Homo sapiens: one gene and its partners. The protein of the gene in region 5 purifies or fractionates together with the protein of the main gene of each other region. This does not show direct contact. Each region holds a gene or a part of one and is shown on either strand. Other genes may lie near its edges.

What was found.
Region 1: the proteins of SIRT5 (region 5) and IDH2 purify together in Homo sapiens (affinity purification with western blotting, with the first as the bait; one study listed by BioGRID). This does not show direct contact.
Region 2: the proteins of SIRT5 (region 5) and CS purify together in Homo sapiens (affinity purification with mass spectrometry, with the first as the bait; one study listed by BioGRID). This does not show direct contact.
Region 3: the proteins of SIRT5 (region 5) and UNK purify together in Homo sapiens (co-immunoprecipitation; one large-scale study listed by IntAct). This does not show direct contact.
Region 4: the proteins of SIRT5 (region 5) and GPALPP1 purify together in Homo sapiens (co-immunoprecipitation; one large-scale study listed by IntAct). This does not show direct contact.
Region 6: the proteins of SIRT5 (region 5) and ALDH18A1 purify together in Homo sapiens (affinity purification with mass spectrometry, with the first as the bait; one study listed by BioGRID). This does not show direct contact.

What each region holds. Positions count from the first base shown.
Region 1 is NC_000015.10:90,088,284-90,093,094, forward strand, and holds part of IDH2 (isocitrate dehydrogenase [NADP], mitochondrial isoform 1 precursor), read right to left. Parts: intron 3,362-4,811; coding exon 3,270-3,361; intron 2,362-3,269; coding exon 2,196-2,361; intron 465-2,195; coding exon 304-464; intron 220-303; coding exon 76-219; intron 1-75. UniProt on the Homo sapiens protein: Plays a role in intermediary metabolism and energy production. It may tightly associate or interact with the pyruvate dehydrogenase complex.
Region 2 is NC_000012.12:56,279,176-56,283,986, reverse strand, and holds part of CS (citrate synthase, mitochondrial precursor), read left to right. Parts: intron 1-129; coding exon 130-195; intron 196-995; coding exon 996-1,127; intron 1,128-1,378; coding exon 1,379-1,567; intron 1,568-4,811. UniProt on the Homo sapiens protein: Key enzyme of the Krebs tricarboxylic acid cycle which catalyzes the synthesis of citrate from acetyl coenzyme A and oxaloacetate.
Region 3 is NC_000017.11:75,787,074-75,791,884, reverse strand, and holds part of UNK (RING finger protein unkempt homolog), read right to left. Parts: intron 1,099-4,811; exon of another isoform or gene 1-1,098. UniProt on the Homo sapiens protein: Sequence-specific RNA-binding protein which plays an important role in the establishment and maintenance of the early morphology of cortical neurons during embryonic development.
Region 4 is NC_000013.11:45,027,538-45,032,116, reverse strand, and holds the end of GPALPP1 (GPALPP motifs-containing protein 1), read right to left. Parts: intron 4,333-4,579; coding exon 4,114-4,332; 3' UTR 1,812-4,113; downstream 1-1,811.
Region 5 is NC_000006.12:13,591,152-13,595,962, reverse strand, and holds part of SIRT5 (NAD-dependent protein deacylase sirtuin-5, mitochondrial), read right to left. Parts: intron 4,295-4,811; coding exon 4,069-4,294; intron 487-4,068; coding exon 399-486; intron 1-398. UniProt on the Homo sapiens protein: NAD-dependent lysine demalonylase, desuccinylase and deglutarylase that specifically removes malonyl, succinyl and glutaryl groups on target proteins.
Region 6 is NC_000010.11:95,645,747-95,650,557, forward strand, and holds part of ALDH18A1 (delta-1-pyrroline-5-carboxylate synthase), read right to left. Parts: intron 1-4,811. UniProt on the Homo sapiens protein: Bifunctional enzyme that converts glutamate to glutamate 5-semialdehyde, an intermediate in the biosynthesis of proline, ornithine and arginine.

The DNA of each region.
Region 1 (4,811 bases), on a different chromosome or scaffold from region 5:
AAAGGAAAGCCACGAGACAGAGATGAAGAGACAAGCTGGGAGAGGAGGGGCCCAGGATGCCCAAGCCAGCCTCACCTCGTCGGTGTTGTACATGCCCATGCCCACGCCGCCTGCGGGGAAGTTGTACACTTCCCACTCCTTGACACCACTGCCATCTTTTGGGGTGAAGACCATTTTGAAAGTGCCGGCCCGGTCTGCCACAAAGTCTGTGGCCTTGTACTGCAGAGACAAGAGGATGGCTAGGCGAGGAGCTCCAGTCGGGGGGTGCCCAGGTCAGTGGATCCCCTCTCCACCCTGGCCTACCTGGTCGCCATGGGCGTGCCTGCCAATGGTGATGGGCTTGGTCCAGCCAGGGACTAGGCGTGGGATGTTTTTGCAGATGATGGGCTCCCGGAAGACAGTCCCCCCCAGGATGTTCCGGATAGTTCCATTGGGACTTTTCCACATCTTCTTCAGCTTGAACTCTGTGAGGACAGAGATAATAGTGGTCCCACTGCAGCCGCCATCTTTCAACCAGAATTTGAACCCCAAGCAACAACACAGCCAGACGGGGGTCCTAAAATTCTTCATGAGGAAGGCAGTAGAGTCTAGAGTGCAAATGTGTGGGCTCTGGAGTCTGCCAATTTTTTTTTTTTTTTTTTTTTTTTTGAGACAGAGTTTTGCTCCTATTGCCCAGGCTGGAGTGCAATGGCGCGATCTCGGCTCACCACAACCTCTGCCTCCTGGGTTCAAGCGGTTCTCCTGCCTCAGCCTCCCGAGCAGCTGGAATTACAGGCATGTGACACCACACCAAGCTAATTTTGTATTTTTAGGAGAGATGGGGTTTCTCCATGTTGGTCAGGCTGGTCTCGACCTCCCAACCTCAGGTGATCCACCCGCCTCGGCTTCCCAAAGTGCTGGGATTACAGGTGTGAGCCACCATGCCCAGCAAGTCTGCCAGTTTTAATGGTGAGGCTTACAAAAGTGGCTCAACCAAAGCTGTAAAAAAAAATTACTGGAAAAATAACCAGCCTAAGTGTTGTCGTGAGGACGAAATGAGCTCGTGTGTAAAGGGCCTAGAACGGTGCCCGGTCCATGCTAAGTGCTCTGTTGGCCATTATGATTCCCACATCACACATGGAGGGAGTACAGTCCGGGGGAAGGACTTGTCTGACGAAGCCTGACAACACACTGCCCACTCCACATGCTCCGGTCCTGGCCCCAACGCCACCCCAGTTCCTAAGGCTGTGACCCTCTCCTGCCTTGTCCATAAATGGGGATACACAACTCCCAAGGTTCAGGTGAAATGAAGAGCTCAACACTCAAATGATCCCAGTGCTGTGGGTCAGGCATGACCTGCAGGACAGGGGCAGGCCTGGGGAATTTGCAGATGTATCTCGAGTACTTTCCGCCAGCTCCCTCCAACTGTGGAAAGTAGGAAGAGAGAGCTCAGAAAACTCCTCAACCATCCTTTCTCGAATTATCCAAACCTGGCCCCTCTGCACACACACTGCTGTGACTTCATGGAACCCTCGAGAGCGGCCCCAACAGCCAAGGACCAGAAGCCAGTCTAGGCCTGGTGGGGGCACCTCTCAGTGACCCTGCATGACCATGGGGACAGAGGCAGACCTGCAAGGCCAAGCCAGTGGCAGGAGGGCAACAGCAATGTTCCCCAGAGGCTGCTGAGGCTCTGAAGGACACAGGCCTTACACACAGCACTCCTCTGCACAATCTCTCTGCATACCTGCCTGCAAGACTGTCCACGCCAGAATGGACTACTGCCCAAAGAAGCCATCCTTACTGTGACCACATCAGCATTACCTTCCTCCTCCTCCTCCTCCTCAGCCCTGTCACCGATGACACCTACCACTGTCAGAGCCAGAGTGAAGCAGAAACACCACTGGCCTGGGAGATGGAAGACATGGATTCTGTTCTCAGCTCTGCTGTGCCCTAACCGTGGAACCTGAGGCCAGCCCCTTACCCACGCCTGCCCCAGCCTCATCAAAGGTGACCTCTGAGGCCCCACTGTCCACCAGGCACACACAGGGAGACTGGCCTCAGGTGCAGTTGGCCTCAGGAAAGCCCCAGCTCTGGAGCCTCCCAACCTCCCAGTCCCGAGATGAGTGACATGGCCAACTGCCCCACCCCAAGTCTGGAGAGGCCGGTGGGAGAAGCCTGTGACCCTCCCTGGCCCGCCCACCTCCACACCCTCGCACCTTCCACACGGGCCTCATCAGGGGTGATGGTGGCACACTTGACAGCCACACTGTACTTCTGGGTGGCCAGTGCAGAGTCAATGGTGACCTGGTCATCAGTCTGGTCACGGTTTGGGAGCCCGAGGTCAAAATACTTTAGCTGGATGTCCACGTGGGGCAGGATGAGCTGGGGACAGAGGGCCAGAGCAAGGCGTCACCCCAGTGACTCAGGGACATGACAACAAAGGGCAGGATAAGAAGTCTGCAGGCCATGGCAGGGGACAGTCAGTCAAAACAGGGATGAGTGAAGGCCAGTGGAGGGGCGCAGCAGAAAGCTGGAGTCAGCCATTTCTCAGTGGGGCCTGGCCAGAGCTGGCAGAGGCTGGGGCTTTGGAGAGAGGTTGGCAGGCCAGGCCGCAGTCTTTTGGAGGGTTCTTCCTCCACTGTGCCTGTGTGCCCCCCTCACATGGCCCATCAACTCAGCCAAACCCCAACCCCAAGTACATCTAGATTTCTCTATACAACTGGTTTCCTCTTCTCAAGTGCTTTGAGATCTTACAGTTGGAAGTGACAGTTCTCAACCTTTGTCCCATGAACGCACACACAGTGTGGGGCCTTCACAAGGACTACATGCTCTCCTGGACATACATAGACCACGGCAACTTTGGAGAAGCCAAGCGGCCACTCTGGGACCCCTTTGCCATGGTGGCTCGTCACAACTGCAGGCTGGGTCACTGCCCTACACACCAGCCCTGTTCCCTTTTCACTCCTTTTCAAGAAGTGAGGCAAAACGTAGGGGATCAAGATGGAAATGATACAGGATTAACCTTGAAGCTTCTCAAAGTTGACAGAACGTGTGGGATCTGGCACCATCACAACACGGACTGCTGGGGACAGGCCCCCGCCTGACGACTTCTGAACAATTAGTGGACCAGATGTGAAAGAAGGGTAGACAGAGGGAGAGAAACAGAGCTGCTGCTGCCTACCAGGACAACGGGGGGGTCCTAGGGACCTGCAGTCCAGAAGACCCTGTGGGACAGAACAATCCCTGGCCAGCCCACCTGGAGAGCCACCCACTTCAGGAGGGGGCACTACCTTCTCCTTGATGAACTGCCAGATAATACGGGTCATCTCATCACCATCCATCTCCACCACGGGCTTCGCCACCTTGATCCTTTTGTCGGCATCTAGAAGCAGGGACACACAGCGCATCATGCCCCTGGGGAGGCTGGAGGGGGGCCCTCTCCTCCCAGCCAGGCCCGCCCTTCACCAGGAGACAGTGGCAGAAAGCCAGGGCTCCAGCTGCCCGGTGTCCACTCCCCCGTCTGCAAATCAGCTCCCTCACTGCTTAGAGCAGGGGTCCCCAACTCCCAGGCCATGGACTAGTACCGTGGGCTCTGGAGAGAGGTCAGCAGACCAGGCCACAGCCTTTAGTGCAGGTCCACGGACTGTTGGGAACTGGGCCACACAGCAGGAGGAGAGCTGCAGGTGAGTGAGCACTACTACCACCTGAGCTCATGCCTGGGAACTGCGCACACGAGGGATCTAGGTTGCATACTCCTTATGAGAATCTAATGCCTGATGATCTGTCACTGTCTTCCAGCACCTCCAGATGGGACTGTCTAGTTGCAGGAAAGCAAGCTCAGGACCCCCCGATTGTACATTATGGTGAGCTATATAATTTTTTCATTATATATTACAATGTAATAATAATAGAAATAAAGTGCACAATAAATGTAATGCACTTGACTCATCCCAAAACCATCCCCGCTGCCCACCACCCTGCCACCCGTGGAAAAATTGTCTTCCATGAAACTGGCCCCTGGTGCCAAAAACTTTGGGAACTGCTGGTTTAGAGCACCTGGATCCATCCATCCTTACTTACTTCCTTTCCTTTCTTTCCTTCCTTTCCTTTCTTTCCTTCCTTCCTTCCTTTCGTTCCTTCCTCCCTTTCTCTCTCTCTTTCTTGGCAGGGTCCTGTTCCATTGGTCAGGCTGGAATGCACTGATGCCATCATAGCTTACTGCAGCATTGACTTCCTGGCTTCAAGTGATCCTCTGACCTCAGCCTCCCAAGTAGCTGGGACTACAGGCGCATGCCACCACACCCAGCTATTTTTAATTTTTTTTTTTTCTGAGACGAAGTTTCGCTATTGTCCCCCAGGGTGGGAGTGCAGTGGCATGATCTCAGCCCACTGCAACCTCCGCCTCCCGAGTTCAAGTGATTCTCGGGCCTCAGCCTCCCAAGTAGCGGGGATTTCAGGTGTGCACCACAACACCTGGCTAATTTTTTGTATTTTTAGTAGAGACAGGGTTTCACCATGTTGGCCAGGCTGGTCTCAAACTCCTGACCTCAAGTGATCCACCTGCCTTGACCCCCGCAAAGTGCTGGGATTACAGGCGTGAGCCACCGTGCCAGCCTAATTTTAAAATTTTTTTGTAGAGATGGAGTCTTGCCCTGTTGCCCAGGCTGGCTGGACTCCCCACCCCACCCCCACTTTAATCTGGCTAGGTAGAACTACCCAAAAACATGCCCAGCCCACCAGTGGCCAAGAGGGTGGGGGCCAGTCTGGCCTGTCAGACCCTCTCCCCCTGGAATATGAAGGCAGAGGAGATCAACACAAAGAACACTGGCTAG
Region 2 (4,811 bases), on a different chromosome or scaffold from region 5:
AAGTCTTACAAGTCTGAGAATAAATTTTCTCTCCCAGATCCCATGAAGCTCTAACAAGTTCTAGTCTGAATCATTCTGATTACTGGCCACAGCCTCTTTTTTTTTTCCTTCTTTCTTCATCCTCTTTAGATGTATGGTGGCATGAGAGGCATGAAGGGATTGGTCTATGAAACATCAGTTCTTGATCCTGATGAGGTAAGACATCTTCATGTCAATTACTAATAATCATTGAGTTTGTGCAAATACGCAAACCGTGGATTAGACCAGTAAGGGTAAGCACAAAACAGAGCACCTAGCTTCATATATTGGAAGGTAGAGAAGACATATGTATGGAATAATTGAAGAACAAATTTACCTTTTAAATATATCAACTAGTAAAAATAAAAGTACAAAACCAGAGGTAAGTTATGTGAAGATTTAAGCTTAATTTAAAGTTCTGTTCTGGACTGGGCGCAGTGGCTCACACCTGTAATCCCAGCACTTTGGGAGGCTGAGGCGGGCAGATCATGCGGTCAGGAGGTTGAGACCGTCCTGGCTAACACGGCGAAACCCTGTCTGTACTAAAAACACACAAAATTAGCCGGGCATGGTGGCAGGCACCTGTAGTCCCAGCTACTCGGGAGGCTGAGGCAGGAGAATGGCGTGAACCCAGGAGGCGGAGTTTGCAGTGAGCCGAGATCGCACCACTGCACTCCAGCCTGGGCGACAGTGTGAGACTCCGTCTCAAAAAAAAAGAAAATTAAAAATTGTATTCTGGGCTAGGCATGATGGCTTGCCCCTGTAATCCTAGCACTTTTGGAGGCCAAGGTGGAGCATTGCGTGAGGCCAGAAGATCGGGACCAGTCTGAGCAACATAGCAAGACCCCACCTCTACAGAAATAATAATTAACATAAAAAGTTCTACTCTAACTTGTTGTAAGGTCTGATGAGTAAGACCAGTCGTGTGACTTCTAGGCTATAAACTTGAGTTGTAATTCTCTCTCTCCTCTCTCAAGGGCATCCGTTTCCGAGGCTTTAGTATCCCTGAATGCCAGAAACTGCTACCCAAGGCTAAGGGTGGGGAAGAACCCCTGCCTGAGGGCTTATTTTGGCTGCTGGTAACTGGACATATCCCAACAGAGGAACAGGTAAAGCAGAAGGATATTATTAGCTCTTCTCATTCCCCTTCTTCATTGCCTTTCTCTAATCTCAGACACTTAATGCTGATCCGGCATTTATAGAGATGCGTAGTGAAGGGAAGGAATCAGCAGAGTTCTGCTGTATAAATGGATTGGGTTGACCTCTCTTGGGTTTTCTTTACTCAGATGTTGCTGTCCTTTTTTATTTTTCTCCTTCCTTGTCCTTGCTGGTGTTCTGAGCACTGTCTCTTTTTCCACAGGTATCTTGGCTCTCAAAAGAGTGGGCAAAGAGGGCAGCTCTGCCTTCCCATGTGGTCACCATGCTGGACAACTTTCCCACCAATCTACACCCCATGTCTCAGCTCAGTGCAGCTGTTACAGCCCTCAACAGTGAAAGTAACTTTGCCCGAGCATATGCACAGGGTATCAGCCGAACCAAGTACTGGGAGGTAGGAAATTTGGGTGGGGTGATCGGTGTGTGATGGGGATTCAAAGGACTTGAGTGTGAAGGGAGGGAAAAAATACAGAATCTTTAGAAAAATTACCTCTGAGTTAATCAGAAACTAACTTAACAGATTTTCATTGGAGGCTTGTTTTTTGTCAGTTGTTGGAATTACAAAGCTAAGTAGAGCATGGTTTCTATCACCAGGACTGTTTGTTTGGTTAGGCTGACACACGTGCAGAAAAAAGAAATTATTAAAATTCCATAGTCGGCCGGGCACAGTGGCTCATGCCTATAATCCCAGCACTTGGGGAGGCCAAGGCGGGCAGATCACGAGGTCAGGAGTTCAAGACTAGTCTGGCCAATATGGTGAAACCCCATCTCTACTAAAAATACAAAAATTAGCCAGGCGTGATGCCGGGCGCCTGTAATCCCACCTACTCAGGAGGCTGAGGCAGAAGAATCACTTGAACCTGGGAGGTGGAGGTTTCAGTGAGCCGAGATCGCACCACTGCACTCCAGCCTGGGCAACAGAGTGAGACTCCATCTAAAAAAAAATTCCATAGTCTTGCTGTAACAGAGGTATGTACACATGGCTGTTGAAACGGAAAAGAGACCTAGGTAGGTGGCTCACACCTATAATCCCAGTGAGTCATGATGCTGAGGTGGGAGGATTGCTTAAGGCCAGGAGTTTGAGATCAGCCTGGGCAACATAGTGAGATCCTATCTGTACATAAAAAAGGAGAAAACAAGAAAAGAAAAGGATGTGACTTAACTGCAGGGTCCCTGAGGAAGGTTTCACAGAGCAGTCTCATGCTAGCACCAGAGGGTCACTTTCCCTCACTATCTTCTTCAAATACAGAAAACTTTGAGAAATCTTACAAGTTGGGAGAACAGCAATTGCAACTCTGGAGTCTAGGAGGACTAATGCCAGTCAGTCATGTTCTCGGCTAGCCAACCTAAGATACCCATCAGGAGTGGGAGAGTGGTTAGTATCCTTGGAGTAGGCTCCAGATCCAGAAACAAATGAGCTTTATTCTCTGAAAATGAAAAGTGTCCTTAATAGTTTACAACGCTGGTTGGGGTATGGAAAGATTGTTTCTTATCCCAATGCATAGTACATAATTCCTTCCATCCTCTTCTAGTACCCCACAAACTCAGAAACACTGGGTAAAAGTACAAATGATCTGGCTAGGTTTACAGGAGAATGTACCATTTTCTTTTGTTCCTTATTTGGAGATAGGTAGTATAGGAACAGAAAATTTTCTTTTTACAAAGCAGGTACATTAAATGATTTTTGGCCAGGAGGTGCCAGCCACCAGGAAGGCCCTAAAGAGTTCACTGTGGTGCAAGACACAGAAGAGCATGACCCACTGCTCTGATGCAACCACCTTGGGTCCTTGGCAAATCTAGATTGATTTAGTTGGTCAATATTAATTTGGCACCAACTGTGTGTAGAGAATTGTGTTTGCAGTTGAGGAAGACAGAGAGCATTTAAAATTGATATTAACTTGGTTGGCATTGGGGAGTTGGTATCAGAATGATGCAAAATATACACATTCACACCACATAAAGCATTTATTTATAAAGGCTTATTTATAAACACTTTAGGTGGTATGAATGTGTATATTTGTACCTGCACACATTAGCAGGTACAAAAGGTCATATAATCTTAATATTTTGTTTTTCATTTTATTTATTTATTTATTTTTTTGAGATGGAGTCTCGCTGTGTCACCCAGGCTGGAGTGAAATGGCATGTGAACCACCGTGCCCAGCCATTTTTATTTTTATTTTTTTAGAAATAGGTCTCTCTCTAATCACCCAGGCCAGGATGCAGTGGCATGATCATAGCTCACTGTAACCTTGAACTCCTGGACTCAAGTGATCCTCCTGCCTCAGCCTCCCAAGTAACAAGGACTACAGGCACATGCCACCATGTCTAGCTGGCATTACAGGCGCACACCACCACTCCTGGCTAATTTTTTTGTTTTTTTTTTTTGTTTTTTTTGGGAGACGGTGTCTTGCACTGTCACCCAGGTTGGAGTGCAATGGCACGATCTCAGCTCACTGCAACCTCCACCTCCTGGGTTCACACAATTCTCCTGCCTCAGCCTCCCGAGTAGTTAGGATTACAGGCGCACACCACCACACCCAGCTAACTTTTTGTATTTTTAGTAGAGACAGGGTTTCACTATGTTGGCCAGGCTGGTCTCGAACCTCTGACCTCGTGATCTGCCCACCTCGGCCTCCCAAAGTGCTGGGATTACAGGCTTAAGCCACCACGCCTGGCCTTGTCTTTTTAATAGAGTTTCACCATGTTGGCTAGGCTGGTCTAGAACGGCTGGTCCAGAACTCCTGACCTCAGGTGATTCGCCCACCTCTTCCCCAAAGTGCTGGGATTATAGGCGTGAGCCACCACCCTGGGCCTTTTTGTTTGTTTGTTTTGTTTTGTTTTTTGAGATGGAGTCTCGCTCTGTTGCCCAGGCTGGAGTGCAGTGACACAATCTCAGCTCACCACAACCTCTGCCTCCTGGGTTCAAGCGATTCTCCTGCCTCAGCCTCCCCGGTAGCTGGGACTACAGGTGCGCACCACCACGCCTGGCTAATTTTTGGTTTTTGCTTTTTTGCTTTTGTTTTGTTTTTTTTTGGTTTTTTTTTTGAGATGGAGTCTCGCTCTGTTGCCCAGGCTGGAGTGCAGTGGTGCGATCTCAGCTGATTGCAAGCTCCGCCTCCCTGGTTCAAGCAATTCTCCTGCCTCAGCCTCCCGAGTAGTTGGGACTACAGGCACCCGCCACCATGCCTGGCTAATTTTTTGTATTTTTAGTAGAGTCGGGGTTTCACCGTGTTAGCCAGGATTGTCTCGATCTCCTGACCTCGTGATCCACCCGCCTCAGCCTCCAAAAGTGCTGGGATTACAGGCGTGAGCCACCGCGCCTGGCCTTGTGTTTTTAATAGAGACGGGGTTTCACTGTGTTGGCCAGGCTGATCTTGAACTCCTGACCTTGTGATCTGCCTGCCTCGGCCTCACAAAGTGCTGGGGATTATAGGAGTGAGCCATGGTGCCCAGCCTTCTTGAGCTTTTAAGGAGTTGTTTTTACATATACCTTAAGAGGATGATCTTCTGCACAGAACATTTCTTCTATAATAATTTCCATTAACTCTAGATGAATAGTGTAATCTCTTGAGTTGAAAGAGTTTAACTAGCTTCTAGGCCTCTAATTGACTTAAGGTCACTCAGAACAAGGAGAT
Region 3 (4,811 bases), on a different chromosome or scaffold from region 5:
AGTTGCTCTCAGAGTTGTCCAGCTGCCCTCACCAATAAGTCACAGTCTTTGTAGGATGATAGAAACCACCAGTCAAAGCAGATGCATATGGGTTGTGGGGAAGCCTTCTTTAGTATCTAACATAGCTGGATTAAAACAAAAAAACTTAACCATTAAGCAAATCTTGACTTTAATAATTTAGATAATAGCAAATATCAACTAGGTGTTAAGTTTAAGAATCTACCCTTAGCAAGGGCACTTAACACTTAACGGGGATTTTGTGGGATTAAATGAAGGCTACAATGAGCTCCTAATTTCTGTCCTGCAAGAAATTAGTTCTACTTGATAAACAAGTAAATAAGATCCAGAAATGTTTATTGGTAATGTAGCTCGTTCTCACTGAGGTTGCTCAGCAACGCTTCCAATGACTTCTGTTGTGCAACAAGTAGTACTCTACTAATGCATGCACGATTTTATTGTAATTTGCAATAATGACTTAAATACATGTTCATGTCCAGGATTTTCCAAAATACAATCAGATGCAATCAAGTGAAGTTAATGACATTTACGTAATACATAAACTGACAAAACTGCCTGAAAAGAGTTATCTATGGAAGTATTGCTACATTATCTTTGTTTAATTCGATGCCCAGGAAACCAGTCCTAAATTTAAATGATGCCTAGATAGATGAAGCTATAAAGTATTTATTCTCTGTCGACCTATAAGAAATCACCAAGTGGCCAGAAAACTCCTGCAAACCTTCACTAAACTAGAATTTCATTTTCCTTTAACATGAGGGCATTAAAATTAAGAAGTCTGAGAACCGACTGCAGTCACTGCAGTTGAAGGCATGAAGACATGATTAGTCTTTGAGGTATACTTCCTCTCATGGGGTCAAAACAATGAGGTCAGAAACTTGGAGAGTTTAATATTTATTTATTTATTTTTATTTTATTATTTTTTTCAAGCCAGAGTCTCGCTCTGTTGCCCAGGCTGGAGTGTAGTAGTGTGATCTCGGCTCACTGCAACCTCCGCAACCTCCGCCTCCTGGGTTCAAGCGATTCTCCTGTCTCAGCCTCCCGAGTAGCTGGGATTACAGGCATGCACCACCACGCCCAGCTAATTTTTGTATTTTTAGTAGAGATGGAGTCTTGCCGTGATGGCCAGGCTGGTCCCGAACTCCTGACCTCAAGTGATCCACTCGCCTCGGCCTCCCAAAGTGTCAAGATTACAGGCGTGAGCCACCACGCCCAGCCAATTATTTATTTATTTTTCAGATAGGGTCTTGCTCTGTCACCCAGGCTGGAGTGCAGTAACACAATCTTGGCTCACTGTAGCCTCTATCTCCTGGGCTCAGGGATCCTCCCACCTCGGCCTCCTGAGTATCCAGGACCACAGATGCACACCACCACACCAGGCTCGTTTTTTTAATTTTTAGTAGAGAGGAGGTCTTGCTATGTTGCCCATGCTGGTCTGGAACTCCTGGGCTCAAGTGATCCTCCTGCCTCAGCTTCCCAACGAGTTGGGACTATAGCTAGCATACCCAGCTGGATATTTCAGATGGTAGTTTTTCTGTGACCTTTCAAGAATAAACTTTTTTTTTCCCTTGAGATGGAGTCTGGCTCTGTTGTCCAGGCTGGAGGGCAGTGGCGAGATCTCGGCTCACTGCAACCCCCGCCTCCTGGGTTCAAGCAATTCTCCTGCCTCAGTGTGTGCCACCACACCCAGCTAATTTTTGTATTTTATTTTTTTGTTTTTGTTTGAGACGGAGTCTAGTCCTGTCACCCAGGCTGGAGTGCAATGGCGCGATCTCGGCTCACTGCAACCTCCGCCTCCCAGGTTCAAATGATTCTCCTGCCTCAGCCTCCTCAGTAGCTGGGATTACAGGCGCCCGCCACCATGCCCAGCTATTTTTTTGTATTTTTAGTAGAGACGGGGGTTTTACCACGTTGGCCAGGCTGGTCTCGAACTCCTGACCTCATGATCCGCCCACCTCAGCCTCCCAAAGTGCTGGGATTACAGATGTGAGCTACTACGCCCTGCTCAGCTATACACTTTCAATAGTATAACTGTTAATACAGCAAAAAGCCAAAAGGTAGCTAAACTTGTAGATACATTTTGAGACGTGATTGCTACAAAAGTTCTCCTCATTCTTAAACGTTTTTATAAAACTCTTCCAATATACAAGACAGTATGTTATAAACAAAGCTGAATTAAATTCATTATTTGTCAAATTAAAAGACAAACTGTCTAGTAAAAGGAGGTCACAGGCCAGGCGCAGTGGTTCATGCCTGTAATCCCAGCACTTTGGGAGGCCGAGACGGGCAGATCACGAGTTCAGGAGATCGAGACCATCCTGGCTAACACAGTGAAACCCCATCTCTACTAAAAATACAAAGAATTAGCTGGGCATGGTGGCGGGCGCCTGTACTCCCAGCTACTGGGGAGGCTGAGGCAGAAGAATGCCGTGAACCCAGGAGGCGGAGCTTGCAGTGAGCCGAGATCGCGCCACTGCACTCCAGCCAAGGGCAACAGAGCGAGACTCGGTCTCAGAAAAAAAAAAAGAGGTCATGTGGTTCTTGTATTGGAAGAATAATAATACATATACATTATCGTTTTACTAAGTGCTAAGCAAATACTTGGAGCTGTACAATAAAGGAACTTCTGACATAACTGTTTTCTAAAAGGACTGGATTCCTAAGTCCAGCACAAGTGCCTGCTACACCAATTTGCTGAAAGGATTATTCCAAAGTTTCCCTTAAAGCAAGATTATTCAAGAGTTTAGAAAAAAAAAATCAACAAAATTATCCTTTAAACTATGTTATGAATAATCCTCTTGGTTTAGGAAAAGGAGGGCTCAAACTCTAAGAACTTTAATTTCAGCACAAGAATGAAGGGCAAGAAAGGGAAACCAATGGCAACATAATTTTTTGCTTTTAGTGTATTCAACTGTGTTTGCCAAGATTACTGTTATGGTGAGTGAGACTCAATTATCACACAAGTGTCTCTGGATTATTGCAAAGACTACAGCATGTTACCTAATTTCAAATAACATCAGGTATAAAACTATACAAAATTAATTAATGTATAAGAAAGTCCAGGTGAGGTGGCTCACACCTTCTCAGGCTCACGCCTTCCCATGCCACTGTACACCAGCCTGGGTGACAGAGCAAGATCCTGTCTCTTGCTCTGTCCAACCAACCTGGGTGACAAAAATAAATTTAAAAAAAAAATTAAAAATAAAAATAAAAGTGGCTGGGCGCGGTGGCTCACACCTGTAATCCCAGCACTTTGGGAGGCCGAGGCGGGCAGATCACGAGGTCAGGAGTTCAAGACCAGCCTGACCAACATGGTGAAACCCCATCTCTACTAAAAATACAACTAAATAAATAAATAAAAGTTTAAAAAGGTAAAAAATTTGACAGGCAGACGGGAACAGTGGCTCACGCCTGTAATCCCAGCAGTTTGGGAGGCCAAGGTGGGCGGATCACGAGGTTAGGAGTTCGAGATCAGCCTGGCCAACACAGTGAAACCCTGTCTCTACTAAAAATACAAAAATTAGCCAGCCATGGTGGCGTGTGCCTGCAGTCCCAGCTACTTAGGAAGCTGAAGCAGGAGAATTGCTTAAACCCGGGAGGTGGAGGTTGCAGTAAACTGAGATCACGCCACTGCACTCCAGCTTGGGCAACAGAGTGAGACTTTGTCTCCAAAAAAAAAAAAAAGAAAAAATTGACAGGCAAAAACTTACAAATATTCAAAAGGGGTCTATCTCTGTATTCAAAATGGGATCAATTATTATCAATGATCAATTATTATTCCACTCCGTATGTCCATGTGTACCCACTGTTTACCTCCCAAGCAGCTCAAATTTTCATTTAAAATCAAAATCAAAATGCTCCCGCCCCCTAACTCCCAAGGGCAATAAATGAATTCACCTTATGGGGGTGGAGGGAAGCAGGTATGGTGGTATGTGCCTGTAGTCCCAGCTACTCAGGAGGCTAAGGCAGGACTGCTTGAGCCCAGGAATTCAAGTCCACCTGGTTAACACAGAGAGATCACGTCTCTCTTTTTTTTTTTTTTTGGACCGAGTCTCACTCTGTCACCCAGGTTGGAGTGCAGTGGCACAATCTCTGCTCACTGCAACCTCTGCCTCCTGGGTTCAAGCGATTCTCCTGCCTCAGCCTCCTGAGTAGCTGGGACTGCAGGTGTGTGCCACCAGGCCTGACTAATTTTTTGTATTTTTAGTAGAGACGGGGTTTCCATGTTGGCCAGGTTGGTCTCGAACTCCTGACCTCAAGTGATCCACCCACCTCAGGCTCCCAAAGTGCTGGGATTACAGGTGTGAGCAACCGCACCCTGCCCATGTCTCTTTTAAGAAGAGGAAAAAAAAAAAAAAAGCTGGGTGTGGTGGCCTCCCAGCACTTTGGGAGGCCAAGGCCCAACAGTAGATTGCTTGCGCCTGCTCGATCACAGGAGTTCGAGACTAGGCTGGGCAACATGGCAAAATCACGTCTCTACAAAAAATACCAAAAAAATGTATCCAGGTGTGCCTGTAGTCCCAGCTACTCAGGAGACTGAGGTGGGAGGATCACTTGAGCCAGGGAGGTCGAGGCTACAGTGAGCTGAGATGGTGACACTGCACTATAGCCTGGATGACAGAGACCCTATCTTAAAAAAAAGAAAAAGAAAAATCAGAGCCAGCAAGTGTGCTGGTTCCATCATATGTGTCCTCATGCTCCCTGCACCTCAGCCCTAGGAGGACTAGGGGATGAAGTTTTCCAGGTCATCACAGCTTCTGAATGCTAGTAAGTCTAGCAAGAAAGACCACTGA
Region 4 (4,579 bases), on a different chromosome or scaffold from region 5:
TTTACTTACCAGTAATGTGGTTACTATTTGAAGCATCTAAATCTATTGGAGATGACAATTTAGAGAGCTGGACAAAAATCATATAATTTCAAGTATAACAAACTTAAATGGCATATTCAATGGTAAGAACATTAAAAGTATCTGCTCCATTATATTAACTTAGTGTTGCTCTTTTTTTCTTCTTCATTTTTAAATTTCAAAAGAGGCCACATTCCTATGACACTTGGCCAAGAAATGTAGGAAATTAAAAAGTCCTTATTAAAATGTCTCCTGCCAGATGGAAAGGAGACTTGATTCAATTAGGCCTTTTGCATCTTTGGAAGTGGGGAGGGGATGAAATAAAGACACCTTTCCGTCCTGTGCAATAACTACTTTGTCCTTTTGTTGTCAATATTCTTGTATTGGGATTAGTCTCTCTGTGGGGCAAAACAACCTCTGAAACTGGCCTTACATTTTGTTAAAATTATCCTCAGGTTGGCACAAAAGAGCATTATCTCCAAGGCCAGTAAGGTAGTAACTCCTGGAAGCAATAGGCGGAAAGCAGAGGTTTCTCTCCTTCATGCCAAGGTCATGGTCACTCCAAAGGTGAGGGATGAAACAGTAAATATATAATACAGAAATATCCCTATTCTCTTTAAATGAGGAAAACAAAGAAAAGTAAGTATCCAAAGATAACAATTTTACTTTAAAAAATGCAAATTTCTCAAAAATATATGTTAAGAATTTACATAAGGAAGAGGAGCTACAAAATACTTTTTTCCTTTCATTGGGAAAAAATTATAACAAAATTAAATTAATGCAATGGAGACACTCTTGTACAAAATTTTGTGTTCAGAAAATACTGCTCATTAAAAATGACATTTTTAGTCAAAAGGTAGCTCTGTTCAATTTTGAGTACACAAGAAGCTTTTTCAATTTGCTTAGGAGAAAAATTCATCTATTTATTTACTTATTTATTTAGAGATGGAGTTTCACTCTTGTTGCCCAGGCTGGAATGCAATGGTGTGATCTTGGCTCACTGCAACCTCCGCCTCCTAGGTTCAAGCAATTATCCTGCTTCAGCCTCCTGAGTAGCTGGGATTACAGGCACCCGCCACCAGGCCCGACTAATTTTTATATTTTTAATAGAGACAGGATTTCACCATGTTGGTCAGGCTGGTCTTGAACTCCTGACCTCAGGTGATCCACCCACCTCGGCCTCCCAAAGTGCTGGGATTATAGGTATGAGCCACTGCGCCCAGCTAATTCATCTTTTTAATAGCAATGCTCCTTTAGTTTGCTATGGTTTACACTGATGCTATGGAAAAAATATACTGTACTGCTATTATTAGAGGAAGAATAATTTGTACCATCATATAAACAATATACTCAATTTTCATAAAGCTTACATGAACTGGGAATCAGAATATTTTTCCATTAAAAATTTGTGTCTTGGCCAGGCATGGTGGCTGATGCCTGTAATCCCAGCATTTTGGGAGGCCGAGGCAGGTAGATCACCTGAGGTCTGGAGTTCGAGACCAGCCTGGAACAATATATAGTGAAACCCCATCTCTACTAAAAAATACAAAAATTAGCTGAGCATGGTGGTGCACGCCTGTAGTCCCAGCTACTTGGGACACTGAGGCAGGAGAATCGCTTGAACCCAGGAGGCGGAGGTTGCAGTAAGCTGAGATCACGCCACTCTACTCCAGCCTGGGTGACAGAGCAAGACTCCATCTCTCAAAAAAACAAAAATAAACAACAACAAAAATTTGTGTCTCATCAAAACTAGAATACTAGTGGAACAATTGGGATTAATCTGCAAGAAAATATAACTTATAGAATTGGCATTTATTTAACAATAGTTTAATAGTTTAAATAGAATTTCTCATCTTATAAATTTATCATCTTAAGAGGCAGTGCTTAAAGCATTACAAACTTATAATACTCCCAATTAGGGGGGTTATGATTATAAATTTTCCATTTCCATTTTTGTATTCAGGGATTATTAAATTTTTAAAAAAGGCTATTCATGACTGATATGACCCCCGTAAATTAGCTAAAAAAAAGATATGACCCCATAAATTAGCTACAAACTGTTAAGTACAGCATATAAATGGGTAAAGTAAAGTTGTCCCAAAGCAAAGTTCCAGGACTCAGAAAGCTTTGGTTGAGATCAGAGATTGAGTCTTACAGATTTCACAATGCTAACAGTTAATGGCATATCTTATCTTGATTGCCTCCCCTAGAAATACTAACTATTAAAGTTGGAAAAAGCAAAATAGTTTTTCCTTAGCACATGAGATAACCCAGAGATCTTTCTGACTTAAAAACAATTAAAAAATTAAATAACAAATAAAAAGCCCTGAGTGCTAAAACAAGCAAACTGATTACAAAACAGGCAAAACCCCATACCCTCTATTTTCAAGTAAATTTGTATTCACTGGCTGCAGTTTAAAGGGAAAAAACAACAAATTTCAAAGTCATGGATTTACAGTAAGGACTTGACACACTGACTCTAGGGCAGGTTAGGTATATTTCACAAGGAGGTCCAGGCTGTGGTAGAGATTTGGTGGTCAGTCCTGACCAGACCTTAGAGGGTACTTGTGAGACACCACAAAAATCAGGGGGAATGGAAGCCTCTTAAAATAATTATTTGAAGAAAAGCCCATAATTCCCCATACTTCCACAGAAGCTAAAGGCACATAGAATATTCTGTTCTACATAAAAAACATTCGTTTTATGTTTCCACATGACCTTAAAAGGACATACAGAACAAGGTAAATTTGTATGTTTTTTAAGATTAAAGTAATCTCTAATCTTAAGAAGCCAAAAACAAAGAAATAAAGATGGACAAAGAGTATTCTTCAACTTTTCTTCATTGCACAGGGAAATCCCCCTGAGGTAAGAATAAGAAAACTCAGTAAGTTGGAAAATATTTCTAAATTTAACATATTTTCCTCAAAAATCACATTTGAATATTGATATAGGTTTAATACAATTAAAAATCATAAAGATATTAAGAAGCAACCTCAGCTTTTATGTAATTTCTTTTCTTCTCTTTTTCTTTCTTTTTTGAGACAGAGTCTCTCGATCTTGTCACCTAGGCTAGAGTGCAGTGGCACGATCTCGGCTCACTGTAACCTCCACCTCCCGGGTTCAAGCAATTCTCCTGCCTCAGGCTCCCAAGTAGCTGAGATTACAGGCACGTGCCACCACACCTGGCTAATTTTTATATATATATATTTTTAATAGAGATGGGGTTTCACCATGTTGTTCAGGCTGGTCTCGAACTCCTGACCTCAGGTGATCCACCCGCCTCACCCTCCCAAAGTGCTGGGATTACAGGTGTGAGCCACTGGCCTCTTTTTTTTTTTCTAAAGAGACGAGGTCTCACTTTGTTGCCCAGACTGGAGTGCAATGGCACAATCACAGCTCACTGCTGCCTTGAATTCCTGGGCTCAAGGGATCCTCCCACCTCAGCCTGCTGAGTAGCTGGGACTATAGGTGTGCTCCACTGCACCTGGTTAGTTTTTTGTAGATACGGGGTCTCACCATCTTAAGCAGGCTGGTCTCAAACTACTGGGCTCAAGCGATCCTCTCACATTGGCCTCCCAAAGTGTTGGGATTACAGGCGTGAGCCACTGCACCCAGCTTTATGTAATTTCTTAATCACCATTCTGAACCCTTGTCAGATTGGGCTATGGATGAATATTGGAATAGTTTTGAACCTTAACTTATAGGGGACCTTTCTAAGCAACAAACATTTCCTAGTTGGGATTTTGTTTAACATACAAACAACCAGCAAGCCTTTCTTCATCTTTAATAAAGCATGCATATTTACTCAAGTATCAAACCACACCTTCCTTTGCCATTTCTCATAAGCTGAATTTTTATTTTAGCATTTTTAATAGCAATGCCCTATTAGGTTATTATGAGGGATTTTTCCAGTAAGACATATTTTTCATCCCACAAGGCTGACTTTTCAAAAATCACTGTTTACTTATAAAAATATAAAATTTTTAATCTATTATAAAAGGAAATAGATTTCAGCACAATTATTAAAGACAATAGAGTATTTAGAAAAGTTCACATTGATCAGTATTAAAATATACCTCACTGAAATATACTTACTTATAAAAACATATTGCCTTTGCCGTGTGAAAATCTGGTGTTTAGTTCTCTAGATTTTTTTATTAGGGCTTTTTTCTGAGCTTCATCAAACCGATTAACCTTGAGATCTTTATCACGGTCAAATGGTATTCTCTCTTGAGGCTTATTTTTGTCTTCAGCAGCCTTACTCTTTAACTTTTTATGATGTATGTCCATAAGAGATTCTGATCTTTTTGATTCCTGGAGAGAGCAGGAGAGCAGAAATAAAAACTATAGTTTGTATATAGATTATTGACAGAATATGACCATGAAACGGAATAGATAGTAATGGTGCACATTAAGGAGGGCTATTTACAAACCCCAGTAGTTTTTTTTTTTCCAAATCCAAGACAGCATTTATAAAGAAAATATGTAATGAAAAGCATTATGGTTATTTAAATACTAAACATCAGAGTACAAACCAAGAACGGGGTGTGAAAGAAAGAGC
Region 5 (4,811 bases):
TGTAGTGCAGTGGCATGATCTCAGCTCACTGCAGCCTTGACTTCCCAGGCTCAAATAACCCTCCCACCTCAGCCTCCCTAGTAGCTGGGACTACAGGCATGTGCCACCACACCCAGCTAATTTTTGTGGTTTTTTGTTTTGTTTTGTTTTTTTGTAGGACAGGTTTCTCACTGTGTTGCCCAGGCTGGTCTTGAACTCCTGAACTCAAGCAGTCTCCCCACCTTGTAACCCCAAAGTGCTGGGATTACAGGCATGAGCCACTGCACCCAGCCTTGTATTTAGTCTTATTTCTCATAAATATCCATGGGAATCTTTGATGAATGTTCAATTTCCTCACATTTATGTTCAACCTAAAGGAGAAAACAACCTATACTTATTCTGTAGTGTGGTATAATTACCCTTTTCCTGATAAAGCTGGACAAATTGGACTCTTGTAATTCTCAGCCACAACTCCACAAGAGGTACATCGAGTTTTAAATAAGCTACCTGAAAAATACATATGAAGCAAATCCAGAATTTAGTATAATCAAGAGCAACCTTCTCCATGTCTAAAAGGGTATAAGATACTTTATTTTTCACACTTCATTTCATGTTTTGGTCTCACCCAGTTACCCAGGCTGGAGTGTAGCAGTACGATCATAGCTCACTGCAGCTTCCAACTCATGGGCTCAAGCGATCCTCCCACCTTTGCCTCCTGAGCAGCTGGGACTATAGGTGTGCACCGCCACACTGAGCCATACTTCATTTTAGCAAATGGGCCTACCCTAGCTTTAGCTTTCATGGGAAACAGAGGCATGCAGTACTCTTAAGCCAGTCAAGAGCATATGCCCTCAAGGACTTTATAATCTGGAGGAAAAATAAATAACTCCATGACTAATGTGCCATCAGATGACCTTGGAGTGGTGTTCAAGTGGGCAGAAGTTGCCAATAGGGTAGAGGGAGCTCAACCTAAATCTAAGGGCGTGATTTATTGACATGACTGACAAAGGTTCAATGGCGTGGGATATGTTTACAAAATTTTAACTTCGATTTCAGAAAGCTTGAATCTTTTATACAAAAGCACCTCAATAAATAAGTAATCAACTAATAAGTGAAAAAAGTAATTGTTAATACTAACCACCACTTATTGAGCTGAAGCAATCATGGTGGCCACAGTTTATGAAATGGGTACCAGGCAACTGGTGCCGTGCAGAGCACTTTCAACCCTAGTGGACATGCGCTGCTCCGTCCTGCCCACCAGTCCTTCCTTGGGGAGCACCATCCCTGCTCTCTCGCATGCTGAGCCAATAGGGCTGTGGGTCACATCCCAAATACAAGCTCAGCCACATGCTGCGCACGGCCCCCATGTGGTGTCCATCCCTCTGCAGTCGTGTTTGGTCAGAAGGGTGGGCGTGTGGACCAAGCAAGCCTACCCAGAGGTTTATTTTCTGAGCAGGTGGCTGAGCTGGAGCCGTCGGAGGCACTCTCCCTTGGCGCGTGGAGACAGATCAATTGCAGAGAGAGAAGGGAGGCCACCTCAAAGAGTGAGCAAAGCTGAAAGAAGGAGGGGGACAGGGGCCGGGAGGAAAGATGACATAAGCTGCACCACTAGGCTCCTCAGTTTTGTGAGCCAATAAACCTACTTTGTCAGTTTTAGCATAGACATTTTTCCCCATTTTCACATCTCTGAAATTCAGATGTGTCCTACAATTGCTACTGGCCAGATGAGACTGTAACATCATCATCATGCTTGCACAGACTTGTTGAAGGAGAACACTGAAAAATGGGGTGACTTTGTTGTTATTCTCCGTGGCCTGACCGGGCAGATTCAGCCCCTGGATCCTTCCGCCAACAAACCCTTCAAGGGCCACTTCAGGAAGGAAAGCAAGTTTTGGCTGTTGTCTACAGCCTTTCCACTGATGCCTTTTGGTAAGAACATGTCAGGCCCAATAGCGAACTTGCGGAAGGTGTGTCAGGAGCTTGGATGAGAATCCCAGCTATAACAGAGGGGCATTCTCTCAGGAAACGCTGCATCATCCATCTCCCGAGACACAGAGCATGAAACTGCATGGAAAACACAGACATCCGTGCTCTGAGTCACTCAGAATCATTTAGAAGAGCTAGATAATGAGAAATATTTGGACCAGTTTATCATACTCATACTTTATGTATGCCTGGAAAGATATAATTTCTAAAGAACGTGTCTAAGTTTTAACAAGCTCTTTCTCTAAGTATAGAATAATTCTAAGGGATAATAAAATAGTATATCATGGTTTAGGCAGATTATATTCTAAATGCCACATTAAAAACATGATGCATCTTAAAAAAAACCCTTCATCAGACTGAAGATGCCATTGATTTTTTTTAACCTAAGTTAGAAGAGAGTTCTCATCGTTTGAAATTTTAAAAAGTCCTGACTAACACACATATATGATCTTATTTAATCCCGACAACAATTCTATAAGATAGGCATTGTCATCTCGGTTTTATGCTGATGACATAGCCCACATTCTGACACTGCAGGGAAATCAGCAGAGGCACATGGAAAGTGGCTCAGACCCAGCAGATGTAGGTACCAAAAAGATGCTCGGTTAATAGGTGGCTGGCTGTTCCTGATGAACAAAAGACAGACACAGTCGAAATGAGTAGTGCCTCGCTTTCCTTATCAGGGTGATCTAAGTAAAAGCAGGCAGCTTCACCACACACACGCAAAAACAAACACCCCCGACTGGTGCACTGCTTCTGGAAATGCTACACTTAGAAATGCATTTTTGGCTGGCACAGTGGCTCAAGCCTGTAATCCCAAAACTTTAGGAGGCTGAGGAGGGAGGACTGCTTGAGGCCAAGAGTTTGAGACCAGCCTGGACAACATGGTGAGACACTCTCCACAAAAATTTTAAAAAGTAGCTGGGCATGGTGGCATGTGCCTGTAGTCCCAGCTACTCTGGAGGCTGAGGTGGGAGGATCCCTTGAGGCCAGGAGTTCAAGGCTGCAATGAGCTATGATCAGGCTACTGCACCCCAGCCTGGGCAAGAGTGAAACCCCCATTGCTAAAAAAAAAAAAAAAATTAAATTAAATTAAATTAAGAGAAATAAATGCTTAAAAAATAAGAAATGCATTCCTTGGATTTGAATGCAGACTCTTTAAATGCAAATGGCCTTGGGGGAAACCCTAGTTTGCCCATTATGACTGTGGACAAGTGGATGTTTTAGATTTGTGGTGACAGCAAAGAAGGGAGGAGCCAGAAGACAAGAGTGAAGGGGTGAGGGGTTACCCAGGACAGAGGAAGGAGCCCAGAGGGACCCAAGACAAACTCCACCGACATCATAGGCTTGGTGGGTTTGGTGCAGTGTCCAGCACTGAGCTGGCAGCTCCCTGAGGCTCCAGGGCAGGGCAGAAGCACAGCCTCAGTGGGGTCCACCGACATCACAGGCTTGGTGGGCTTGGTGCAGTGTCCAGCACTGAGCTGGCAGCTCTCTGAGGCTCCAGGGCGGGGCAGAAGCACAGCCTCAGTGGGGAGTGCCCACCAGGATGAAGGGGGAGTGACAGGAGACCCCAAGATGCTGCAGTCTGCTCCTGCTCAAGCCCCAGCTGTCCAATGGGCCAGGCCTCTTATTCCTCAGCTCATTGAGGCCATTGTCTCACAGTACCGTGCCCCTCCACAGAGGAAAGGGTCACGCAGCTGTGCACCCCAGCGTTCCTCCAGTATAAAAAGCACGCCAGCCACCTGGGCTCATGGGAAAATGCAGATTCTGATTCAGTGGGGCCTATGGGGCCTGAGATTCTGCATTTTTAACAAGTTCTTGGGGGACGCCAAATGTTGCTGGCTCTTAGACCACCCTGAGCAGCGAGGATGGAGGAACTGCTAAGTGAATAATGTTAGTGGGTCAGGGGCTCCTCCCATGGCCAAAGGCAGCTGCCCAGGTGCCACGGGACACTAACATGTCCCCAAAGGAAATGCCACAGCATCCTATAGGACAGGACGGATGTCCAGCAGGGAGGGAGGGAAGGCACCAGAGGTGATGCTGAAACAGCAGGACAGGTGTTTTAAAGCTGGTTCCCTGAATGGGAGGCTGGGGGTCTCTCACCATGGATCTCCAGAAGGTTCTTGGTGCCAGCCTTGCGGTGCAGCTCATCGATGTTCTGGGTGATGACCACGACTCGCCGGCCCTGCTTGCCCAGCCGGGTCTCACACTCGGCTATGGCGCGGTGCCCGGCGTTGGGCTCCTTGCTCCCCATGACCTCCCGCCGGTAGTGGTAGAACTCCCACACCCGGGACGGGTTGTGGGCAAAGGCCAGGGGAGTCGCCAGGTCCTGGGAGTGGGAGAGGAGGCAGGAGTGAGGGAGGCAGAGACAGCCAGGATGCTGAACCCTGGGGCACAGGCCCTTCCTCCCTAAGGCAGAGACAGGCAGCGTCGGGAAGGTGCAGGCTGGAGATGGCAGCACTATGTTCAAACAACATGGCAGATGCCAGGCAGGGTCTGGGTACCAGCCTACGTCCCCATCCTGGGACTGCCCAGGGACCTTGGAGAAATCAGTCAATTTCCTTAGTGACAAAACAGGGATGATGCAACCTGTCCCATCTACCTCCCAAGTAAGTAGTGAAGATGAAGTAAAGGAACATGCAGGAAGGTATTTTGGGTCGAATCCCCTTTTTCATGCAGCTCTAAAACACACGAAGTGGATCTCATTTTGACCTACACCCAGGGAAAGCATGAAATGCAAAATGCCCATTGAGCTCTAATGACCATGGGTGAGAAACTCAGTTTTTGTAACTATAGCTATGGCTATACACACACACACAAGTACACATCTACATACACGCACATCT
Region 6 (4,811 bases), on a different chromosome or scaffold from region 5:
CATCATCTGGGATGGAACTGGGATTCCGATGGCATTGCTGGATCCACAGGTGCACGGTCTCTTCCTGCTGTGGGAGTCCCTGGGACTAAAAGACTGGTTTGTTGTTGAGGCTAAGTTTTATGGAGTGCTACTTTCCTTCATTGGGTTAATTATTAATAATATAGGTACCCTACTCTGCTTTCAGGAATATTATCCTAAGCAATATGTACAACTAAGTCTTAAGTTTAAAAGTTGTATGCCTAATGGTTTGGTCTTACTGATCTGCCAGAGAGAAGGGTGGTGGAGGGACAGGCTTACTCCCCTAGGGTTTGGACCAGGGATCATCAGTGGCTGTTTGCAGAGCTTAGAGCTATGCCAAGTATCATGTATTATCCTTTTGGTAGCTGTCAGATCTAGGCTTTCTGGCTTTCTCTCCTGTCTGCTGGAGGGCCTATCCTGACCTGGAAGGGTGGTGAGCATGGGTGGAGCAGCCTGAGAGGGTACCTCAGGAACACAGGCAGTGGCATGCATGTCTGTCCAGGTGATCAAATGGTAGAAGCCAATCAGAATCCAGCAGCCAGGCTAGCATGAAGGAGGCTAACCCACAGTCTGTATCAGGAGAAGAGGGTGGGTCGCATGGTTCAGTGCCAGGTAGTCAAGGGTCATTCTGGCTGGAGACAATAGGGTAACAGCAGTAGATAAGGCCTGTTAGGGTTCAAGAGGAGGTCACCACTAACAACAAGGTTTCATGCAGTTGACTCAGTCAAATCCAGTAGGTTCTAGCACAAAGGAGAGCTTCAGGGGACTCAGGGCTTGTTGGGTTTCCTATTGAACAACGCCTTTTACCTTCCAAGGCTGACCCTACCTTTCTTGGGGGTATTTTTTTAATGTTCTACAATGTATTATACTTGTTAGGGTCCATATTGAAAACTGAGAAGGCCTTGATTAGTTAGGAAAATTCAAGGCTTCTAGAGAAATAATTGTTTCCCATCTTCTAAGGAACTTTTAGGCTCTAAGTTCCAAAGAAAATCTGTCCCCTCTTAGTAGGTATGAGGGCATACTGAAGTGTATGTGTGTACAGATGTGGCATGGTGGGGGATGGGAGGGGTTGTCCATGTTCTTCTTAAGGGCCACGGATTATACTCTTACCACTCTGACAGAGGAGAACCCTTTACTTCTTCAGCATCAGAATCCTTATGCCCAGTAACCAATGAGGCTGTGTTCCAGGCCTCAACAAGAAGGGACCCAGACATGACTACTCTTTTTCTCTCTGGCCTTCCATTGCCTTCTCTGTTTATCTCCACAAGCGTTCTCATTTTGCCTTTCTTTTCTTTTTTTTTCCCTCTGCTATTCTGCTTATCATGGTCAGTGAAAGAGCTCCACGTTCCAGAAAAATCCAAATCCCCAAATTCAAAAACCTAGGGAAACAATTAGAAAGTGCCTCCTTCTGTGAATGAGTCTAATGAGGATAAGTATCAATAAAAATACTGAAGTGAACACTTACTATATACCAGGAGTTGTGCTAAGTATTCATACACCTTCTACAGGAGTAAAAAGGACAAGTGTTGGCTCTGGAGCCAGACTGCCTGAGTGAAATTTCAACCCCTTCACTTACTTGCTGTCTCCTTAACTATCTCATAAGGTTGGTAGGGTGGATAAAACAAGTTCATGCATGAACAGAGATTGGCACAAAATACTCAATGAATATTAACTGGTACTGTAAAAAAAGTGTTACTTACTGTGACATGACATATATATCCATGGTCCCTGGCTTATAACTCTAATAATCCTTTTTACAGTCTTTTGTTATAATGTTGGTGTAAGGAAACAGAATCTCTCTGGTATTCTCCTGAACTCCTTTCACCTACTCAAGGCAGGACTCTAATTTGATTGTGGGTTGTAAGACCCTCAGTCCAGAGAGGGTCCTGCCCCATACCTTGGAGGAAGAAATATTGCACAGGAAGACCAAGACAAAATCTGAACAGACAGGCCTTGCTGGGTTACCCCACTCAGTCTATTAGTATCAGGTCACATTCTTTTTGTTCAATCACATTTCGACACAGTTGCCCATGCTTCAATCATGCCTATCCAATAAGTCTCCATAAGAGGTCCAAGGGGACAAGGTTCGGAGAGCTTCCAGATGGCTGAACATGTGGAGGTTCCTGGAGGGTGGCGTGCCCCGGAAGGGCATGGAAGATCTGTGCCTCTTACCACACACCTCACCCTACATATCTCTTCATCTGTTTCCTTTGTAATAAATTGGTAAATCTAAGTGTTTCCCTGAGTTCTCTGCATCACTCTAGCAAATCAATCAAGCCCAAAGAGGGTACTGTGGGAACCCCAACTTGAAGCCAGTCAGTCAGAAGTTCCAGAAGCCTGGACTCAGGACTACTAGGAAGATGGGGATGATCTTGAGGGACTGAGCCCTCAACCTGTGGGCTGTCCTCAGGGAGACAGTGTCAGAATTGAATTGGAGGATACCCAACTGATGTCCACTGCAACCCCGTACATTTGGTCACAGAAGTCTTCTGTGTTGATTGTTGTTATGGAGTGAGAGCAGAGGAAAAATAGTTTGAGCTTTTCCATATTCTACCTTCATCATCATCATCATCATCATCATCATCATCATCATCATCATCTTACTGAATTCTCATGAATTAAGCCTCATAAGTTAGGTATTATTATGAGTTCATTATTATTATTATCCCCATTTTATAAATAAGGAAACTGATGCTCAGAGTAACTGAGTAATTTACCAGCATTGCCAGATTACAAAAATGGCCACAATCCTTTTGCAGCTTCTCCATTAACAGGTGAGTCAATCTTCCAAACTTCTTAAATTTGAGCTGGCCCCGTAACTTGCTTTGACAAATGTGGCAGAAGGAACAGTGCATAAATTCTGAGTTTACATCTCAAGAGGACTTGTAGCTACCATGCTTCCTGTTCTGGGGACCCTGCAAGCATCATGCAAAGCAGCAATGAACAGCCTGCTGGAGAATGAGAAGCCACAGGGAATGTACATGATGTATCATCCCAGCAGAGGCCCCTTCATCCCCAACAATCAGCCCTAAGTCAATCTGAGACCTGACACAGACACAGAACCACTGTGCAGCTGAGCCCAGTCCAAAATACCATCCCACAGAATTGTGACCTAAACAGACAGTTGTTTTAAGCTACGAAGTTACTTCATAAGCAGAAGGGCTAGTTTTAAAAACCCAGGAACTGGTTCCAAAACCTGAACTTTCAGCCCTTATACTCTACATTAATAGGAAAGAGATTTTTCTGTCTAATGACAAGCTTGATTAGTTGATTGGCAAGTCATCTTGCAATGAAGCTTGGAAATGGACTACTGATAAGATTTAGGTGATATCAAGGAGCTAGCCAACTCAAAACATCACAAACAGCCTTTCAACAAATGATGCTGGAACAACTAGTATTAAAAGTTGAAAGATGAACATTGACCTAAACCTCACACCTTATACAAAAATTAACTCAAAATAGATCACGAAGTTGGGTGCAGTGGCTCACACCTGTAATTCCTGCAGGTTGGGAGGTCAAGGTGGGAGGATCTTTTGAGCCCAGAAGTTCGAGACCAGCCAGAGCAACATAGACTCCATTTTTACAGATTTTTTTTTTTTTTTTTTTTTGAAACGGAGTCTCACTCTGTCACCCAGGCTAGAGTGCAGTGGCGCTATCTTGGCTCACTGCAAGCTCCTCCTCCCGGGTTAATGCCATTCTCCTGCCTCAGCCTCCCAAGCAGCTGGGACTACAGGCACCTGCCACCACACCCGGCTAATTTTTTGTGTTTTTTAGTACAGACGGGGTTTCACTGTGTTAGTCAGGATGGTCTCGATATCCTGACCTCGTGATCTGCCCACCTCGGCCTCCCAAAGTGCTGGGATTACAGGCGTGAGCCATCAGGCCCAACCAAAAAACTTTTTAAAAAATTAAATGTGCCAAGACTGGGCAACATGGCAAAACCCTGTCTCAACAAAAAATATAAAAATTAGCTGGATATGGTGGTGCACGCCTATAGTCCCAGCTACTTGGGAGGCTGAGGCAGGAGAATCGCTTGAGCCTGGGACGTTGAGGCTGCAGTGAGTAATGATTGCACCACTGCTCTCTAGCCTGGGTGACAGAGTGACACCCTGTCTCAAAAAATAAAAAAAAAAAACAAAGAAAAAAATTAGCCAGCTGTGGTGGTGCAACCCATAGTCCTAGCTACCTGGGAGGCTGACATAGGAGGATCACTTGAGCCCTGGAGGTTGAGGCTGCAGTGAGCCTTGATCGTGCCACTATGCTCTAGCCCTGGGTAACAACAGAGCAAGATCTTGTCTCAAGAAAACAAAAAAAAAATGGATCATGGATTTAAGTATAAAATATAAAACTATCGAACTTTCGGGAAAAAAACATACGAGAAAATCTTCAGAATACGGGGTTATACAAAGAGTTCTTAGACTTGACCCCAAAAGTACAATCCATAAAAACAAAAGCTGATAAATTTGACGTCATCAAAAGAAAAACTTTTCCTATATGAAAGACCCTCTTAAGAGAATAAAATGACAAGCTATGAGACTGGGAGAAAACATTTGCAAACCACCTATCCAACAAAGGACTAATACCTGGAAGTGCTATGGTTTGGATATGGTTTGGCCCTTCCAAGTCTCAGGTTGAAATCTGATCCCCAGTGTTGGAGGTGGGGCCTGGTAGGAAGTGTTTGAATTACGGGGGCAGATCCCTGATGAACAGCCTGGTGCCAGTCTCAGAGGGAATGCATGAGTCCTCACTCTTAGTTCCCATGAGACATGGTTGTTAAAAAGAGCCTGGCCCTT